Homo sapiens: one gene and its partners. The protein of the gene in region 5 purifies or fractionates together with the protein of the main gene of each other region. This does not show direct contact. Each region holds a gene or a part of one and is shown on either strand. Other genes may lie near its edges.

Region 1 (3,500 bases), on a different chromosome or scaffold from region 5:
ATTGTATTTCCCTTGGACAGCACTGATATAGAATCTGCATTTTCCATAAGTCCCTCAGATGATTCTCTGGTAGGCATCATCAGATCACCTTCTGAGAAACTGCATATGAAACTCTAAGCTCTCCAGAGGAAGAACTGATGCTTTTATACACATATCTTTTTATCTTCACAGCGCTCTGAAATTGTGAGCAGTTACCCATAAGCTGATTGAATTTAGATGTGCTTTAAATATTGAGCCATCAAAATCACACAAAAAAATTTCTTTTAAAATTTTATTTTAAATATATATATATATTTTGCTATAGGTAGAGGTGTTTCCCTATGTTGCTCAGGCTGGTCTCAAACTCCTGGCCTCAAATGATCCTTCCATCTTGACCTCTCGAAGTGTTGGGATTACAAGTGTGAGACACCCTGCCTAGCCAAAAAAATTATCACTGAAAGTTTTGCTTTTTTTTCCCCCCAGTTCCTTAAGAATTATTTCTGATTTGAATTTCTTAAATGAAAACAACTCAAATTACAAAACAATTCAAACTACAGCTTTGGTTTTTTCTCAAATCAATAAAATACATAGTTTATTTTCTAGAAGAATTAGGGTTATTTAACTTCCTAAAGAAATAGACCATTTGACTAGATTCTAAAATTGTTGAATATTATCATATCAAATTATTCATTTAAAACTACTGATTAATAGTAAACCAGAAACACACACTAATTTTTATACCATAGAAATTTAGCCAGATGAGGACAAAAAGAGACATATCTGAGAAAAATGGGTCTCTATACGGGGATAAATGAAGTAAAGATGGCTGAGTGCCCTGAAAGAAGAGAGACGGAAAACTAATGTTTTCTAATGTTAACATCAGGATACAGAAAAATGTTGACTTTAATGACCATGAGAAGGAAAAGAGCCACAAAATTAGAAATAAGGCTTTTAAAGATTATTTGGTAGTAATTTTCAGTAACGATTTTTCCACTTACCTCATTGCCACATTGCTGCCATCAATAACTATTGGTCTCAGATTTTCACCATCATCTGTTACAATCTCTTGCATTGGAGATTCAGACCTCTGAGATTCCAGGGAAGAAGTTTCCCGTGTTATAGTGTTAATTGTACTAACCGTTTGATCAGCCTCACTTTTATTTCCAAGTTTGACAAGTTCTCCCAAAATATCATTGATTAAAGCATCAGTACCAAGTTTGTTTAGTACAAGCTGAACCTGTTCTTCAGAATAACCTAACTTAAGTGCAAACTCCAGTTTTGTTTGGTATTCTCGCACCACATCAGGTGGTTTCTTTGCTTCCTTGGATGTAGTCTGGGACTCTTCAGGTTTAAAGTCTTGCAAAATTTCATTGCGCTTGAGTATGTGAGGCTCTAAACAGGGAGACCTGCAGAGCTGTCTGTGAGTCTTAGTTATCAAGCCTGGCTCTACTGAAATGCTACCCAATTGTTCTGACTCATGATCAGAATTTGTGTTTTCTTCAGAGTCACCAGAGCTTGCATTCTCTTCAGACGCCTCTTTTTCATCCTTCCCCACATTAACGGTATCCATACTTGGGTTTTCTACTGTTGACCAAGGTACAGCTGGACTTAACTGTGGGTCAGTGCTCTCCACATAAAGGTGGCCGAGGTCATGCCCTAGGTGATCCTTCAAGCCCATGAAGTTGTTACGTGTACTTGACTCCACTTTGCTGTTTTTTCTGTATTCCTGAATGCAAAGCACCCCGTATTCCTAGAGAAAAATGTAAAATATTTAGAATTTCATAGTTATGGCTAGATTTCTGTCTCAATGGAGAAGTCAGAAGAGAATTACTCAACTACTCAAAATACTTTGTATTTTGTCTACATCCTCTCCTCCCTCCTAACACCCTTGCCAAGAGAGTATCATCTGCCATTTTTCAGATGAAGAAGTCATAAATTAGAAAGGCCATGTAATTCCTCCAAGGCAACAAAGTAAATAAGTAGTAGAACTGTATTTTTTTACCCAGTTTCGTCTGATTCTAAAACCCATGCTTTTCCCACTATATCATGCTCCTTCTCAATCTCGATGGATCAGATTTTTCTACTTTTAGGACGGCTTATAATTCTAGAGTGACACATAGAATATCATCAAAAAGTATGTTTTTAATATGCATGACAGGTTAAAATTTACATTTTTCTCTAACAGAATTCATAAGTATCTATAAATATTCTTTTAAAAAGAAAGCCACATAGAAAGAAACCATTAACTTATACTTGAAAAATCATTATTAATCTGGATGAAGCTTAACAGCAATCTAAAGAACTTTCAAAAATAACATAGATACTGCAATGAAAGAGCACATATTCTAAGATAGACAGAAGGGAATTAAATAATTACAAAGTGAGTTAAATTCTTCTTAAGAGATGAACAGGGTTTTGCCCTAGTAATCATGATTTTTTGACTATGGAACATAGTAACACAATATAATTTCTAGCATTATGCTATCCTTATTAAGTGCCAGGGAAACAACAGTCTATTTCATTCCAGGAAAAGGTAAAAGTTTTATTCTATCTGCACTTACGGAAAGCAGAGATGATATCTCACATAAAATTAGCAGCAAACAATTAGGCATATTAGATAATGTTATCTCAGTTTCTTGAATTTTATGGCAGAAAATCCTCCTGTATTATGTCAGATTAACTAGCCATTAATCTGCATTTGGTTAAAAAGTGATCTTTTTTCCTATTTTTCACCATATAAGAATACTTTTACTATTTAAAATTGGTTTGTTTTTTGCCATTTTACTATTTTTCCTTAAAGACTATTGGAAATGTTATTTCTCTACTAGGAATGGGTTAGGAAAATAAAGCTATTTTCTCTGGTGCTTCATTGTAAGAACTATATCCACATCAAGGATTTACTTTTTTTTTTTTTTTTTTTTTGAGACGGGAGTCTCACTCTGTTGCCCAGGCTGGAGTGCAGCGGTGTAATCTCAGTTCACTACAAACTCTGCCTCCCATATTCAAGTGATTCTCCTGCCTCAGCCTCCTGAGTAGCTGGGATTACAGGTGAGTGCCACCATGCTCGGCTAATTTTTATATTTTTAGTAGAGACAAAGTTTCGCCACGTTGGCCATGCTGGTCTCAAACTCCTGACCTCAAGTGATCTGCCCGCCTTGGCCTCCCAAAATGCTGGGATTACAGGTGTGAGCCACCACGCCTGGCCTCATGATTTACTTGTTAAGGCAATTCTGGTATTCTACGCAGATACAGCATTAGCAAGCCAGCGATAGTTGAATTTCAGACTGCCATAAAAACACCTATTTAAAACTAACCTGAAAAAGAAAACTGAGAAAATGTTTCTAAAGCTCTTCAACATCATATTTACACTAGAAAATAGCTATTATATAAATGTTAAAAGAAAATGCTAAGTGATTTTCTGAGAAGTCACAAATTTGAAAGCATACCTGGTAAACTTTAATTAGAGAGTCAAGTAATGAAATACATTTTATTAACTATGGTAAATACTAGAGAAGAGAACA
Region 2 (3,500 bases), on a different chromosome or scaffold from region 5:
AATGGATTTACAAGTTGTAGTATTATCATACAAAATACTACTCAGCAATAAAATTACTGATATATGCAACAAGAACTAATCTCAACACATTATACTGAGCAAAAGCCAGACACAAAAAATAGACTGCATGTATCCATTTATACAAAGTTCTAGAAGAGACAACATAAATCTATAGTGGTAGAAATAAGATCAGTGATTACCTAGGACATGAGCAATGACTGTAAAGCCAAGAGGAACTTCCTGGGGTGATGAAAATGGTCTGGCCACAAAGGCGTGTACATTTACCACAGCCTATCAAGGTATGCTTTTAAATGTGTGCGTTTTATTGGACATAAACTATACCTCAAAAACATTTTTTTTTTTAAAAAAAAAAGGAATCTGCCCAACAGCTGCCTCTCCCTTGGGGGGAAAAAAAGAGTAAAACTGACAAATTCTTATTAGCAAAAATTAAACAAGTGATGAGATAGTAGTATAGGGATATATTACTTAAAGATAGAAAAAATAAAGATCACTGAAATCACATTTTATTGGAAAAAAATAAAATCAGATGACAATATATTTTATATCCACAAAATCTGGAGATTAGCAGCAAAAAATAGCATATACATCATAAAGAACTGTGATTCTTATACGAATTTGATTCCCTGTCCCCTCTGAAGATCTGATAAAGCAGTGGTTCCTAACCTTTTTGGCACCAGGGACCAGTCTCACGGAAGACAATTTTTCCACAGCAGGTAGGGAAGGGGAAAGGTGATCGTTTCAGGATAAAAATTATCCCACCATCAGGCATTAGATTCTCATAAGGAATAAGGAACGCACAACCTAGATCCCTTGCATGCGCAGTTCACAATAGGGTTCGCGCTCCTATGAGAATCTAATGCCGCTGCTGATCTGACAGGAGGCAGAGCTCGGGCTGCAATGTTCACTCACACACCGCTCACCTCCTGTGCAGGAGGGACCCCTGTGATAAAGGTTATGAATAATTCCTTCAAACACAAAAAAGAAAACTCAAATTAAAAAACAATTCTATGGACTCCTGCCCCAGATTAAAATGACCAGTTATAATCATTTTAAATTAAATAATTTAAAAGTATCAAGTATCCTTAAATCATCAAATAAACTAAAGCAGTATTACTGACCCTTTGTGCCTAACTCTGAAGAAAAATATGGATTAAAGTTTCCTGCCTCAACTATTCTGACCTTTCAAGACACAGGTACTAAATAATTATGAGATAATTCTCCAGTCTCTTTACTATCACAGATGTCACCTCAGGTAGACTACATCCCTATGGAAGAAAGTTCTTCAAAATCAGAGCTGAAGGAACCAGGAAGTAAGCATCTCTAGTATCTTCTCTCTAGTCACGATTCTGCCCCAATCACTTCAGACTTTAAAAGATAAGTCTATTGATTTTTCTTTGGTACAACTCTTTAATACATTTAGAGAACTGCTTATGTATTGATGTTTGATGTACATCAAGCTGTAATGGCAATGAAATTAAGTATCATATTATTTCATAATGCCTACACTACTAGATCCATGAAAGCCACTCTGAAAATAAGGCCTAGGCTGGGCGCCGTGGCTCACACCTGTAATCCCAGCACTTTGGGAGGCCAAGGCAGGCAGATGGCGAGGTCAAGAGATCGAGACCATCCTGGCCAACCAGGTGAAATCCCGTCTCTACTAAAAATACAAAAATTGGCTGGGGGTGGTGGCGCATGCCTGTAGTCCCAGCTACTCAGGAGACTGAGGCAGGAGAATCTCTTGAACCCAGGAGGCGGAGGTTGCAGTGAGCCGAGATTCGTGCTACTGCACTCCAGCCTGGTGACAGAGCGAGACTCCGTCTCAAAAAAAAAAAAAAGAAAAGATGACCTATGTTCCTCCTAGAGGCAGGCTTTCAAAAGGTGCAATGTCAGCCTTAGGAGGCTTAGGAATCTTTCCAGATGAGGGTTTAAGAAATGAAGCTCCGTTTTTCTGGTGAGAAAATTCCTAAAATTAGATCTAGTTTTCACAAAACTCCTCTTAACAGAACAGAATCTCTAAAATGTGTGTTCTGAACTAAATAGTTCATCTGCACTTTGTCTATCTTTTTTACCTAGAAGTATAACAAGGCAAAAATAAGCAATAGGAAAAAAAAAACTTAAATTTTCCCATTCTCACCTTAATCTTGGCACTCCACCTTTCAAAGTTATCAACAGGTCAAAATATACATGTGTTAGCCTTACTTTCTAGTCATATAAATGTCTACAGTCTTGGCCAGTCACGGTGGCTCACGCCTGTAATCCCAGCACTTTCAGAAGCCAAGGTGGGCGCATCACTTGAGCTCAGGAGTTCAAGACCAGCCTGGGCAATACTGTTTCTACCAACAACAAAGAAAATTTGCCAGGCGTCATGGAGCATTGCCTGTAGTCCCAGTTACTCAGGAGGCTGAGGCAGGAGGATCATTTGAGCCCAGGAAGCGGAAGTTGCAGTGAGCAGAGATCACACCACTGCACTCCAGCCTGGGTGACAGAGCAGAGACCCTGTCTCAAAAAAAAAATTGTAGTCTCGTTCCACCCAACTTTTTGGTTTCAACTAATACTTATAGCTCCTGGAAACACTCATCCTTTTCTTGCTCCCATTACTGCACTCTTCTAATTTTCCTTCACCCTCTCTCTTAACCTACATCCTCTTTTTCCTTCCATTCTCTATCTGAATATAACCCAAGACATCCCCTCATCTGCTTCCTGTTCTTCCTCTGTTTAATACTTCAGTAGGCAGCTTTAGTCAACCATGCTGATAATCCCACATGAACATTTCCCAACTAAGCCCTTCAGGTGCTACAGAAGCAACACCATTTTTTTTTTCAATCACATCCACAATCAAGTCCACATCTTCACTGACTGCCTAATTCCTCTGGTCCATTCTTCCTAACCTGTATCTTGTAATTGGCATAATTTCTTCTTTAGGAAAAACCATCTAAGCCCTTATCACCTCACATACAGATTAAAGCCTACAATTACCTAAGCAATCTCACCTGCATTCATTTATTCCCCAACATCCCTTCCTCACAAATCCTTCTTGTACAAAGATGCCAGTGTCAAGTCTCCCTAAAACAAGACAGGAAACCCAAGAGAAAAAGCTATACGAGTCCTCTCTAGGTGATTTCATCAAGTCCCTCTAATGAACTTCCTTCACTTTATCTATTCAACCCATTCCCCTTTTCTGTTGCTCATCAGGCCAAAATTAGGCATGTCACATTGCTGCTTCCTGTCCCATAATAATCTATTCATACTTTACTGTCCCAACACTTGACCTGCCTCCTCCAAGTTGCTTTCAAAATGTGCAGTTCTCAATTAAATTTGCATTGGTTTAAATACAGCAAAACTAGACTTTAGAGACTTTAACAATAATCCAGCATCGTACAAAATACTTTTACTAGTTTGTTCTATTTTAATAAATGTCCCTAGTTAAGAAGATTGTAACATACATATTAGGCAATTATCAGATCATAGTACTTTTA
Region 3 (3,500 bases), on a different chromosome or scaffold from region 5:
ACAAAACGGACTCATCTACAAAATGAAGCCACCGGAGGCTGCTTTCAGCTCTTTCTGTGCTTTCCAGTTGTGACTTTTCATTAATGTGCAAGTATGAATCCTGGCCTCTTGTGTCAGTGGACTTTGGTCACATGGGTAGATGTGTTTGTTAAGGGTCATTGGTAAATGCCAGAAGAGGCCAGAGCAATGGGATGCCAAGCAACATTAAAACATCATTAAGCCTATAAAATTCTATCTGGGAGACTGAGATTCTCTCTCTCTCTCTCTCTCTCACACACACACACACACACACACACACACACACACACATACACAAGAATGCACACCCCAACAAACAGGTACACAAATAACTGCAAGCAGATCCATTTAAACAATTTAAACAATGTTTCTTAGGTCAGTAAGACTCACAAAAAAAATCTGATTTTGGTTGTTGTTGTTAAATTTAAGGTCAAGAATCTACCATACAGCCGATTAATTTTGCACTGCTTAATGGCAACTCTAGCATGGGATTGTTTTTAAGTAAAAGTTCTATGGACATTTTTACTCTACAGATTTGCACTAAGAAACACAGGACACTATCATCACACACATTAGTGTCTATATCTAACCTACTTTAACAAGTAGAACTCTATCACGTACTATACTACAGGGTCAGTCATTTCACACTGTACAGAAACATATGCAGATATCACTCACAAAATTAATCTGAATATGGCATAGCTTAAAATTGCAAGGGCAAAGTCTATTCGAAATGTAGCATTCTTAATGCAACACTTCTGTGGTGTGTGTGTGTGTGTATTTTCCTCCAAGAGAAATAGAAATTAGGTCAGACATGCATTATGGCAGCCTGGGAGAGTTTGAGAAATTGACACTAACCCAACAGTATATTATGTTATGTAATAGAGGATAGTATTCAGCTAATATGACACCTAAATTATTAATACCAAATAAATCCTAGATTATTTGTTGTATAATGCCCAAGAGCTTACACAATAAAATGGCATTTTAACCTAATTTCTATTTTGAGCTTTCAAATACATTTCCTAAAGGTTTTATGATCAATTTGAAAAATCAGAGCTCACAATTTTATGTTGAATTCTCATGCCAATTAGCAGTATTAGCTTTGTATTCTAGCCATTATATTTTTGTTTTATTTCACATTAATTCCATCACTTTTATATGCATATTTTGTGCTGCTTGAAGATAACAGACAGCATGTAAATAAATTAAATTGTCTTGACCTCACAGGGCTATTTTCTAGCCTTGCTTTTTGGAATTAGCCCTGCTTGTCTTTCCTTCACTTCCCCCCACCCTCCTCACCATTTTCAGGGATTCAGTGGAACATAAAAACAGTTATATTTATAAGTGGAGTCCTTGTCACATACCACTTGCTTCATGAATTCCATAAAAGAAGTTAGATGAGAGCTGTAAAGCTCACAGCTATTTCTGAATGCACATGCACCCAGGGATAGGAATTTATCACGTACTTGTAGCAGATCTTTCTTCATGAGCATCTATAGATCATTACACATTTAAGAACATTTGACAGTTTATGAGGAACTGGTCCACTTATATTGGGAATTTGAGCTGTTAGTTTACCTTGCCACCTTTCTTGGTAAAAACGTGTTAAAATACAGGAGATCTTCTCTCATATCAACAAGAGGAAACAGGAATTCTAACTGGCTTAACTCTTGTGGAAGAGCATCTTTCAAAAAAGAATCACAGGCCATTTATTAAAATGCCCGCCTGGGTTGACCATCAGTCACAACACTCATGGCCAGTGCAAGACTCCAAAACCAGGAGAAAAGACACTCTTCTGTTACTCTCCATTTGCCTCTTACAAAATGCAGGACTTAAATACACAGAAGAGGAGCGAGTGTTGCAGGTGACGTGTAGGAGACCACTCGCTGGGTCAAGATGTCCAAGAAGTGGCCACCGCTTCAGAGACTTGACTCATTCATGCCCAATGAAGTCTTCATCCCAGGATTCTTCAGCAAAGACTCAAACACCTGAGGTAAATCAAATTAGACACACACACATACACACACAAATACACAATATTTACATTTGAAATTCTTATTTTGTGAGATGGCTTGAGGAAAATCGGCATACAGGTTTTCCCATGGGATTAGACATTTCTCATGATTTCTCGGTTTATTGCTCCCCTGTTGAGCTTTCAGTTCCATAAACACGTAGCAAGCTCTAATTACAAGTGAAGAAAATGAAGGTTCATGACAAAACACAACACATTGGAGACACTTGTTCAAATATTTCCTCCAAATAAAATGACTGTCCATTTTGACTTATTTTGTTTTGGTGCCATTCAAAATGTATTAAAAGCCTTAGCAACTAAATGAAGACTGGGTTTCAATAAAAAGAAAAAAAAAATAAAGAAGCCAGCAGTGCATGTCTTCACTGAATTTTTACACGGATTCGCAGGTTTAATTCTACTTGTCTACAGAGCATCTTTGTTTGAATCTACCGCATTTAGAGAAGGTCACATTGTACGCACTTGTACAGTTTAACGTCTAAGTAGAATATGTCTATCTTGTAACATGATTTTGAAAAATCATAAATTACAGTCCATTGAATACATGATTATGAGGATGCATGCAATCATCTTCCAAGCTGTTGCCATCAACACTCAGAACAATTCACCTGGTATCTTGTTGAGACCGCACCTTCTGCCCTTTGTGTCTGTCTTGGGGTAATCAAGAGGCAACCCAGAGGCCAGCGCTCAGCACCAAATGGTCAGTGTTGCCCCCCATCTTCTCACTGGGATCTCATCATCAACCTGCTCAACCCCTAAGTTGGCACCCACAAGAGACTTCCCTGCAGCCCTCTTCAGCCACAGGATATCACAGTGAAGCGCTTAGAAATGCAAGACATGTTGTGAAGCACGATGCCGAGGAGGAAGACCAAGACGCAAGCCACCAAGATGACAGTGCACACCCCCGACCAGGTGGAGCTTTTCACCACGCCCCGCCTGTCCTGCTCCTCCTCCACCGCCTCCTGGGGAGCCCCACCTTGCAGAGGCTGCTGTTCAGCAGGGATGGTCACCACGGTGACGGACTTCTGCTGGCTCCCGGGCAGCAGGCGGCAGCCCATGTCTCCGGGCAGCAGCGCACGCTCCTTGGAGATGGGCAGGGGCAGCATGTAGCACCCATTGCTGGGAAGTTTGATGAAGACCGGGGTGTGTTCGGAAGTGTGTGGAATGGCGATGACAGCCAGGACCTCCGGGTCGTCCGGGAGCTGCGACACGGAGAAGCCGGGAGGCAGCTTGGTGACACCGCGGCACCAGGGGCACCGCACATCCTTCTGGCTGGTCCTCATCTGCTGCAGGCACACTGAACAGCAGGTGTGCTTGCAGTCCAGCAACTTGGGCCTGCGCCGGGGGCTGTAGTAATTGAAACAGATCTGACATTCCAGCAGAGAGTCCTGGGACAGCGTCTCCATGGTGGACCGTGAGCAGGAAGGGCAAGGCCAAGGTGAAGGGGAAG
Region 4 (2,944 bases), 2.7 Mb from region 5:
GTAGTGGCTATGAATGAGACTGGAAGAGGGGGCCCCTGTGAGAACATCTTTCAATCAGAATGTGCTGTACGGAGGGAGGGCCAGAGTTCATTTTGGTCACCAAAATTAACTTTTTTTTGTTTGGTTTTCCACTAGTTAGATCTGCCAGTTCCTTTTATCCCATGCACTGAAAGTTTAAAGTGGTGTTCTCAGGAATTATGTTTGGCCAGGAAAGGAGAAATCGCAGAAGCCAATTACATCCTCACAGGCCCCTTCCTTCCAGGAGAATGACTTTACCATCTTGGCTTTTGTACATGATATGAGCCAACATGGAAACGCAGGCTGCTCTGAACTCCTGTCATCATCCATCTTTACTGGGGACTGGGCCACTGGGTATTTTTTTCCCTAAGTCATAATCAGTGTACCTCAACGCTTAATAGAATTCATCCCCTCTAACTCCATGAAAGGACCATCACTTGTTGAAAGTTGCTAGAAATTATAAATACCTTTGAAACCTTCTATTGGTTGTGATGTGTCCCTTTATTTTAAATTTTGTATCAGTGTCCTCAGTCAGTCCAATGTCTTCAAGGAAAGTGAGTGCCCAGAGTCACAACAAGTAATGGGGAAACTCATCAGCTGGAGATCTGGGTCTGGCCAACAGGGCAACTTCTGGACTTTTCAGAAAAAGTGAGAATCCGAGAGTTTCAAAGGATTTATTTGATTTCCCCACATGATCACAACCATGGTTTTACATTGATAGAGTCTGTTGCCACTGACAAACAGAATGCAGATGAAAACAAACGCACTCCTTTCCTCTCAAAGGTACACAGTGGGGGTGCCAGGCTTCTTGTGAGGGAGGTGTCCCTTGAAGTCTCTGAACAGTCTGGGGATTCAGGACCTGATTCTAATTGCTTAAAACAACTCGGAGGCAAAAGATATTTTCCAAGAGGAGATGCATGCTGTGTGCAGTCTCGATGTGACTGCACACAGAAGGGCGATGCAGATGCATCTGAATGGAGGGCAGGCCTCCTCCCTCTTGTCCTGTGCTCAGCACCCCCACCTCACCCTGCTCAGTGTTGCAATGCTGCCTTGACTATTGTTGTTACATAAAATACAAATGTACTCGTTTCTCAGGCAGGAAGGGTGATGATATTTTACAAGGAGAACTGTAAGACTGTGCGTGCTTACCTGCGGGCACAGAGCTTCCCGTGGCGCTGAGTCAACACCCAGCATCAGCTGTGAACATCTGCTGTCTTTTCAGCTCATTAAGAAAAACAAGAGGCTCCTGCTGCATGCAGTGTGTGAGGGAAAGATCACTGCACTGGGTGCTGAAGACATTTTTAAGCAAGATGTGCACAGCATATTAGGATGAACTTTATTTTTACATTGTTGTACAATTCATTGGTAAACTTAAAAAAATACAAATACATGATTTGATTGTTGTCCCAGAAAAGACTTTTGTCACATTGCCAGCTGTTTCCCTCAGCGTCTCCTGCTCCTGTCAGCAATTCTGTATGTAACTGCAGTAATTTGTGTGACTTGAGAAAGGTGTGCCAAGGGCGTCCTCACAGTGAGAAGGGACCAGGCAGACATCCTGGGGCCCTCGGCCTCCTCCTGCCTCCCCTCCCAGGGGATGTGATGACAGGACCCCGAAGCTGTGGCTCTGACAGGTGGGATCTCTAAAGGGGACAGTCCCATGAAAGACACACGGGGACACCAGCTCACTGGGAGCTTTTGCTTTCCCAAACAAGATGTGGGCAGCATGACTCCAGCCTCTGGAACCCAACAATGTATCTTCCACAAACTTTTGATAAGCTTGCAAATAAAACAGAATGAAACCTCACTAGCCTGAAGGAACACACTGAGTGCGGCGGGAAACCCCGGGAAGGGCTCAGTGGGTTCCAGCAGTTCCTTACGCGAGGCCCTGCTGCCCAGCACAGCTCCAGGACACACCGAGGACAGTGCCACAGGCTGGCAGCCCGAGGCTGTGGAGCTTGCAGGATGGCGATGGAGAGGGAGAGTTTCCTGAAAGCCCCTCCTGGGGTTTTCTGTCTGTTCCTATTCATTACTGCTACCCTTCAGAAAGAGCAATTCTGTGCCAAACGGCCTGAATCTTTTCTGGAACAACCTAAAGGTTACAGTTAGACTCTCCTCCCAGCACAGAAGAGGGTGAGAAAAGCTGACATACTCAATATGTAATCGCTTTACTTCAACGATGTGTTTACAGTCACGCCAATACATTTTGCAAACGCACAACACGCAGAGCGCAGCCTCACAGCTGACGCCAGATGACATGCAGCAGTTTAACGCTTCCAGGTCGGAACAGCCTCCTCAAAATTGCGAGACAGAGTGCTTTGGGGAGCCTGGCTTTTAAAAAAGACCCGAGAATTGATGAGTCGGAGACACCAGGGCGCTTCCCTGACAGCCCAGCCTGGACCCAATCACACGGTCCCATGCTGTTTCTTTCTGAGCAGACACCAAAGAAATGCCACGCCAATGGGAGGACACAGGTGGGCGGGTTAAAGTCACATTTTTAAAAAGGCTAAACTCTAGATTGCTGTATTTGCTCTCTCTGGAGATTAACAAAGTGCTTGGTTTGCAGATTTGCTGGTACGGTGATCTCAATGATATGACCGAGGGTGGGAGGGATGTGAGGAGGGAAATCGGCAAAACCCTGGCCAGCCAGCCAGCCAAGGTGACACACAGCCAGAGGGGGCTCCCCTCTCCTCCTGCCGTCCGGCCACGGCTCACCACGCTGTCCACTGGGAACGCGGCCCCGCGGCCCGCAGAGTCAGGCGTGAGCTTCGCCCTTTCTGAAAGGGCCTCCGCCTGGGCAGGCGCCGGGGGGCAGTCCTCGGGTCCCATGGCTTAGGAGCACAGCACTGACGGCTGCAGTGGCTCGAAAGGCTGAAACTACAAAGTATGGCCCGTGGGTGACTCGGGCACAGACCTGCCGCGTGCAGGT
Region 5 (3,500 bases):
TCTAGTGGGGGTGGAGGCTGCAGGGGTGGGGCGGGATCTTCATGTTCTGATGTCTTTCTCTACAGACAGCCTGTTCAAGTCCAGGATCAATCGAAAGATTCTTCCAGGCAGAGTTGCAGATTTGTCTTAGGTAAGCCTCCCCTTTGTTTAGTAATAATGATAGCTAACCTTTATATAGTGCTTCCTGTGTGCCCAGTCATGTTTTAAGCACTCTATTATATATAAACTCATTTAGTCCTTACAAGAACCCTATAAATGTAGCTACTATTATCACATTATTTTACAGATGGGTAAATTGAGGCACAGAGGGGTTAAATGTCTCATCCAAGGTCACACAGCTAATGAGTGGCAGAGCCAGGATTTGGATCTACCTGGTTTGGCTCCAGAGTCCATTCTTCTCCTGTGTAGCAATTCTATGTGTAGATTAGAATTATAAAGGAAACTTGGCTTACTCCAACTCCTTCCTTCCACATGGGAATAAATCTTCTCTCCTTTTTTTTTTTCTTTTCTTTTCTTTTTTTGTTTTTTGAGACAGAGTCTTGCTCTGTCTCCCAGGCTGGAGTGCAGTGGCGTGATCTCGGCTCACTGCAATCTCTGCCTACCAGGTTCAGGTGATTCTCGTGCCTTAGCCTCCCGAGTAGCTGGGATTACAGGCGTGCGCCACCAGGCCCGGCTAATTTTCATATTTTTAGTAGAGACGGGGTTTTGACATGTTGGCCAGGATGGTCTCAAATTCCTGACCTCAAGTGATCTTTCTGCTTTGGCTTCCTAAAGTGCTGGGATTACAGGCGTGAGCCACCGTGCCTGACTTTTTTTTCTTTTTTAAGAGCTAGGGTCTTGCTCTATTGCCCAGGCTGGAATGGCCTTGGAATGATTGTAGATCACTGCAGCTTTGAACTCATGGGCTGGTGATCCTCCCACCTCAGCCTCTGAGAAGCTGGGACTACAGGTGTGCGCCCAGCTCATTTTTTGCTTTTTTTTTTTTTTTTTTTTGTAGAGATAGGGTCTTGCTATGTTGACCAGGCTGGTGTTGAGCTCCCGGGCTCAAGTGATCCTCCTGCCTTGACCTCCCAAGATGTTGGGATTATAGGTGTGAGCCACTGTGCCCTGCCATGTGTGTGCTTTTTTTTTTTTTAATTATTTTTCATCTGAAACACTTGTGCCTTATATTGTAGGGTATTTTAAGAAATAAAGAAAATTGAGTATCTGTTCATTCTGTAACCAGTGTTAAAAAATAAAGAAAATTGACCAGGTATGGTGGTTTATGCCTGTAATCCTAGAACTTTGATGCTGAGGCAAGAGGATTCCTTGAGCCAAGGAGTTTGAGACCAGCTTGGGCAACATAGCGAGACCCTGTCTCAACTGAAAAAAATATATATACAAAAACTTTTTTTGGCTGGGCATGGTGGCTCGCACCTATAATCCCAGCACTTTGGGAGGCTGAGGCGAGTGGATCACTTAAGTCCAGGAGTTCAAGATCAGCTGGGCAACATGGCAAAACCCCGTCTCTACAAAAAATACAAAAATTAGCTGGGTGTGGTGGTGTATGCCTGCAGTCCCAGCTACTCAGGAGGCTGATGGGAGGATCACTTGAGCCCAGGAGGCAGAAGTTGCAGTGAGCCGAGATCATGACACTACACTCCAGCCGGGGCAACAAAGTGAGTCTCTGTCTCAAAAATAAATAAAGGCCAGGCATGGTGGCTCACACCTGTAATGCCAGCACTTTGGGAGGCCGAGGTGGGCAGATCAGTTGAGGTCAGGAGTTTGAGACCAGCCTGGCCAACATGGCGAAACCTCATCTCTACTAAAAAAAATTCATACAAAAATCAGCCTGGTGTGTTGGCATGCACCTGTAGTCCCAGCTACTCAGGAGGCTGAGGCATGAGAATCACTTGAGCCCAGAAAGTGGAGGTTGCAGTGAGCCCAGATCGCACCACTGCACTCCAGCCTGGGCAATAGAGTGAGACTCTGTCTCAAAAAAAAAAAAAAAAAAAAATTAATTAATTAATTAAAAAGTAAAACAAATTTAAAAAGGAATAAAGAAAATTATAAATAAGAAAATAGAAACTTTTTCACAGCACCTATAAATAAGCACTACTGTTTTAATATTTTGATATATTTTCATTTTTAATTGTTAAAACTTTTTTTGTAGAGACACGATCTCACTATGTTGCCCAGGTTGGTTTTGAACTCCCTGGCTCAAGTGATCCTCCTGCTTTGGCCTCCAAAAGTGTTGGGATTTTAGATGTGAGCCACTGTGCTGGGCCCATATTTTGATATGTTTTCTTTAATGCTTTCTCTATTCATACATGTATATGAATACTCACATGTGTACACACACACACACACACACACAGATACACACACACACATACATCTAATAAAAACTGGAAGTATGATTCCCTTTCCACTTTGGCTTAGTGCTTTCATGGAGTCGGCAGTCACTCCTTCATTCATTGATTCAGAAAATGTGGGTAGTTAAGCCCTTTTCTAGGCTCTAGGGAGTGTACGCCAGAAGCATACAGAGCCCCTGCCTTGGGGAGGTTTATGGTCCAGTGGGGAGACTGACATGTAAATAACTCTAATAAGTATGCAAAAGCGAGTAATAGGATGGCTTGCGGGAAGCAGAGGAGGGCGGAGAGATAAGGCAGGAGGCCATTTACAGCAGTCTTGGGGAGGCTGAATCAGAGCCTGACCCAATCCAAGTGACCCAAGGCAGAGGAGAGGGGAATGAAGGGACATTTTAAAAGTTATTTGTGGCAGTGAATGGTGACTGATTTGATACGGGAGATAAGAAGGTTTCTAGGAAACTGGGTGGGTGGTGATGTGCCTTTCTGGGATAATAAATATGGGTGAAGAAGCAGGTTTGGGACTTGTTGAGGCTAGGATGATGTTGACCTGAGCATCAGGATGCAAATTGACATTCAGGTCTGGAGCTTAGGATGGGGCTGGAGATAAGAGATTTGGGAATATTCCTTATAGCAATGGGAGGTTCCTGGAGGAGCAACATACAAAACAAGATGAGGAGTCCAGCTGGCAGAAAGAGGAAGGCAAAGGAGGAGGGTCTTAGTGAAAAGGGCCAGGAAAGAGTGGTCAGAGAGGTAGGAGGAAAGTCAGGAGGGAATGGTGACTGAGAACCAGCAGAAGAGGATTTCAGGAAAGAACCCCAGTCCTAGAGTCAGGCAGGTGTGGGATCTGGTCCTGGCTTTACTGCTTTCTAGTTTGTGACCTTGGGCAAGTCCCTTAACCTCTCAGTCTCCGTTTCTGGAGATGGGGCAGTTGAGATGTCATGTGTTGCAGAGCAGTAAAGCAGGATGAGGACCACCATACTCGTTGAAGGCAGACAGTTTTCATCTTTCCACCCTGGGGCCAGGCCCTTAGGGGTCAGAGTATGTGGTACCTGGGAGGTTATTGGTGGCGTTGGAGGAGGAGAGGGCAGAAGAGGGGTGGGACATGAGGAAGTAGATCATTCTTTCCGTCTGACTCCTCACACCTGCACT
Region 6 (3,847 bases), on a different chromosome or scaffold from region 5:
CTGGGCAACCGAGGGAGACTCCGTCTCAAAAAAAAAAAAAAGGCCAGACGCGGTGGCTCACACCTGTAATCCCAGCATTTGGGAGGCCAAGGCAGGCGGATCACCGGAAGTCAGGAGTTCAAGACCAGCCTGGTCAACATGGAGAAACCCCGTTTCTGCTAAAAAGACAAAAATTATCCAGGTGTAGTGATACGCGCCTGTAGTCTCAGCTACTCGGGAGGATGAGGCAGGAGAATTGTTTGAATCTGGGAGGCGGAGGTTGCAGTGAGCTGAGATTGTGCCACTGCATTCCAGCCTGGGTGACAGAGCGAGACTCCATCTCAAAAAACAAACAAAAAAACTGGCTTTAAAAAAAAAAAAAATCTGTAAGGGTGGGGGGAGGGTCTCCAGAAAAGAATAAAATTTTTAAAAATTGGCTTTATATAATGTCTGACTATACTTTTATTCTAAAAACTCTGTGACATAAGGCTGGTAAACAGAAAGAAAAATCCAACAAGGACTTACTTGACCGTAGGACATATTAAGATGTTTATTATTTACTAAGAGTAACATGTATACATTTGCAGTAATTTGTACAATCCAACTACATTACAATTCACAGTAACATACACTAGCTCTAACCTGCCTTGGATACAATTAAGTCTCCTCAACACACTATTTTATCGCCAAACTTACATTCTGGCTTTTATAATCATTTTGCAACACCTGGTACAGTATACACCTATAGCTTTGCCATAGAAATGCCCCTAAATGCCCTTCAGAGAGCAGAGGTGAATACTTTCTCATGAAGAAACGCCAACTTTTCTAAGCGAGTTCGTTTCAGTAGTGGGAGCCATTCCCAGTAGGATAACTCTACCACACGGTAGCCAAGCCGAGCCAGCTGCCGCCTCTTCATATTGTGCAGTCCAAGGAGATCCCTGGAGCCATAGCAATACTGGTTCCTGTTTGTGAACTGAACAGCCAGCTTCATTCTTGGGGTCTGCATGCAGGCTGCGGGGCACAGGCCAGCCATCTCCATGGCCCCTGATTTATCTGCTACATTGCAAAGGAAGCCCCCCAGAGGTACAGCTGCCTTATTCTCCAACTCCATGGGCTGCTGCCCAGGCTCTGACTCAGTTTTGCCCTGGAAATGTCCTCTTGCTTTCCCTTTTAGTAACTTATTCATCAAATCATCTGTAAGGCTGACTCCCACATGCTCAAGCCTTAATTTGGCTACATTTTCAGCCGGCGTGGCTTCTCTATTAAATGGTAATGGCTTCAGGTTAACATCAAGCTGGACCTCTAAGTCAGAAGATCGGGTATGAGGCAAAATCATATGGTGCTTGACGTACTGGGGCCCCCCCAGCATGGTCTCCAGTAAAAAGACAGTTTCTAAGAATTCAGGCTTTGAATTCATATCCTTCTCTGCTAAATACCACAGCAATTCAGACCCCTCTTGCTGAAGGTGAGTACTAAGACGATTGCCTCTGTAATCTGGACACTCAATGCCAACTGTACCATCGAGGGTATATAGTTCCTTAAGGAGGTCAAACTTAGTTCTCTCCTGAGCTAACCTGACAAACCCTGGACTGAGAGCGAAATCAATTAACTCTACTGGAAAGTACTCCAAAAATGCCAGGCCCAGCAGGCAGGTGGGCAGGTGTTCTGGGTACTGGTTGAATTCAGGCATCTTTCTGTGAATCTCACTTATCAGGCTGGAGTAAAATTCTTCTGCATTGGGTGGCTTATAATTCAGAGTTCCAAATGACCACAGAATCTTGGCAACATCTTTACTTCGACAGTGTGCCACTCTAGGAGGCAAAGACGCAGCCACTGCATTCATTACTCCTTCATTCAGGAAGCGTAAGGCCGAGCAGTAAAGAGTCAGGTGCATGACACCTTGAACTCCCAGGGAAGGAATTCGCTGAGGAGCTATCTCTCCAATCTGCTTCATGAAATTGATGTGATCCACGTGAGTGAAACGGAACATTTTAACAATATTCACTAAGGAGCGACTACTCAGATGCTGAATGTTAGCACAAGCCAAGTCTCCAATTTTCCGCATGACAAATTCAGAGAGATTAGTACTTGATTTAAAGAACCCCAAACAGATGGTACCAACCTCCTCCAAATTGATCAAATCTATATATTTAAGGATCAATGATTCCAATTTTTGCATTAGGTCCTGGGATACCTGACGATTTTCACCTATAACATAAATTAAGTGAACTAGCTGAGACAAGGATAGATCCTTCCAGTGCAAATTAAGATAACTAGAAAAAATGTTTAAAAACCTAGGTACTTTGCGGCCTAAGTACCTCCAGAGATCAGCCACCAAAAGGAGCTGATCCATATTCATCTCCCATACCTGATGGCAACACTTGGTCTCATACACATCTAGCATTGAATGGGAGTGAGGGATTCCTAAAATGACAAAAGCTTTCAAAACATTGATCAGATCTTGGGTATCAAAGAGCTGTATCTTCTTCACACTCAGCTGGCAGAGCAGAGCAAAGCTGGTACTGCCCAGCAAGACAGGATGCTGCTCTGCAGGCAAAGAGCTCAGCTTACACAAATAATCAACAATGACTTGAGCCTGGAGATTATTTTGATTAACTCTGACTTTGTGCAAAATTAGTTCACCTTCTGAAACAGACAGGAGCTGAGAAGTCTCAGATGCATTATAGCTGTGAACACGGTATTCTGGTCTTAGCTGTAGGAAAACTCGCATGTTTTCAAAGGAATCAAACACTTCTACGTCCTCTTCATCAACTCCTGTGGCCCTGGGTGAGCCCAGCTGCAATGTACTGGCCTTAGAGGAAGAAGTCTTGCTGAATTCCAAACCTGGGTGGGCACTGCTGGTTGTCAGGATTCTCCGAGAAGAGAAGGTGCTACATATGTTCTTAACTTTTTTGGCAGAATGGCAGAGGCTAATGTGTTCTGGAGGGTCCTGTCCCCCATGCTGTGTGCTGCTCACATTCCAGTATGACACACTTCGGACTGCACCAAAGGCAGAAGGACTGCAAAATGCTCGGTATCTTACAAGTTTTAATGACTTGAGAGTAGCTGCCATTCTGGTGTCAGTATTGATCTCTTTGGCAGTCAGAATACAGTCCTCACAGATTTGACCAGGCAATTTCTTGTTTATATGGTGCTTGATTAGAGCTGGACGGGGAGGTGTTCCACAAAAACTGCCTGGAAATCTTCAGCATATCACAAGAGCCAGGGATCACAAATGACTGGGTCAGAATTGGTGCCAGATACTGAAAAAAGGGTAGATGAAGAATGAGTGGCTTCTACCTATAAAAGCATCCAAATTTACACATTATAAAAAACAGGTTGAAACTACACTGCTGTCTACTCAAATAAGTTCAATGCTAGTAAATGCCCAAACCACATGACAGCATATATCAAGGATAAATTCTGCGGTCTGTGTAAAGGCCTAGGAAAACCCCCAACCCAGGGTACCCGTGGGCAGTTCCTGGACTGCTGCTCACCAGACTTCCTTCACTGTACAAGGCAAGCAGTGACGGCTAAAGAAGAGACGGTGCTCCGCTAACATTTGATAGGAAGAAGGAAGGCAGATTTCTAGAAAGAAGGCTGGGAACAAAAGTGAGCAACTCCTTCCATCTCTTTGATATCAAGGCAAACAGGTCCTACCTGAAGAATGTTTATAAAAACTGCTATGCTAACAGCACTAAGTAAAAAGTGGGATCTGGTATAAAAGATAATTAGTTGGCTGGGTGTGGGTGGCTCATGCCTGTAATGCCAGCACTTTGGGAGGCCGAGGCAGGCAGATCACTTGAGGTCAGGAGTTCAAGACCAGCCTGGCCAACAAGGCGAAATCCCGTCTCTATTAAAAATACAA

What was found.
Region 1: the proteins of IRAK2 (region 5) and ZC3H12C purify together in Homo sapiens (affinity purification with mass spectrometry; one large-scale study listed by BioGRID and IntAct). This does not show direct contact.
Region 2: the proteins of IRAK2 (region 5) and SUB1 purify together in Homo sapiens (affinity purification with mass spectrometry; one large-scale study listed by BioGRID and IntAct). This does not show direct contact.
Region 3: the proteins of IRAK2 (region 5) and RNF152 purify together in Homo sapiens (affinity purification with western blotting, with the first as the bait; one study listed by BioGRID). This does not show direct contact.
Region 4: the proteins of IRAK2 (region 5) and IQSEC1 purify together in Homo sapiens (affinity purification with mass spectrometry; one large-scale study listed by BioGRID and IntAct). This does not show direct contact.
Region 6: the proteins of IRAK2 (region 5) and FASTKD5 purify together in Homo sapiens (affinity purification with mass spectrometry; one large-scale study listed by BioGRID and IntAct). This does not show direct contact.

What each region holds. Positions count from the first base shown.
Region 1 is NC_000011.10:110,134,892-110,138,391, reverse strand, and holds part of ZC3H12C (probable ribonuclease ZC3H12C), read right to left. Parts: intron 1,730-3,500; coding exon 978-1,729; intron 1-977. UniProt on the Homo sapiens protein: May function as RNase and regulate the levels of target RNA species.
Region 2 is NC_000005.10:32,592,057-32,595,556, reverse strand, and holds part of SUB1 (activated RNA polymerase II transcriptional coactivator p15), read right to left. Parts: intron 1-3,500.
Region 3 is NC_000018.10:61,813,008-61,816,507, forward strand, and holds part of RNF152 (E3 ubiquitin-protein ligase RNF152), read right to left. Parts: 5' UTR 3,457-3,500; coding exon 2,845-3,456; 3' UTR 1-2,844. UniProt on the Homo sapiens protein: E3 ubiquitin-protein ligase that acts as a negative regulator of mTORC1 signaling by mediating ubiquitination of RagA/RRAGA and RHEB.
Region 4 is NC_000003.12:12,896,543-12,899,486, forward strand, and holds the end of IQSEC1 (IQ motif and SEC7 domain-containing protein 1), read right to left. Parts: 3' UTR 2,893-2,944; coding exon of another isoform or gene 2,848-2,892; 3' UTR 501-2,847; downstream 1-500. UniProt on the Homo sapiens protein: Guanine nucleotide exchange factor for ARF1 and ARF6. Guanine nucleotide exchange factor activity is enhanced by lipid binding. Accelerates GTP binding by ARFs of all three classes.
Region 5 is NC_000003.12:10,213,419-10,216,918, forward strand, and holds part of IRAK2 (interleukin-1 receptor-associated kinase-like 2), read left to right. Parts: intron 1-65; coding exon 66-130; intron 131-3,500. UniProt on the Homo sapiens protein: Binds to the IL-1 type I receptor following IL-1 engagement, triggering intracellular signaling cascades leading to transcriptional up-regulation and mRNA stabilization.
Region 6 is NC_000020.11:3,146,019-3,149,865, forward strand, and holds the end of FASTKD5 (FAST kinase domain-containing protein 5, mitochondrial), read right to left. Parts: intron 3,243-3,847; 5' UTR 3,053-3,242; coding exon 758-3,052; 3' UTR 501-757; downstream 1-500. UniProt on the Homo sapiens protein: Plays an important role in the processing of non-canonical mitochondrial mRNA precursors.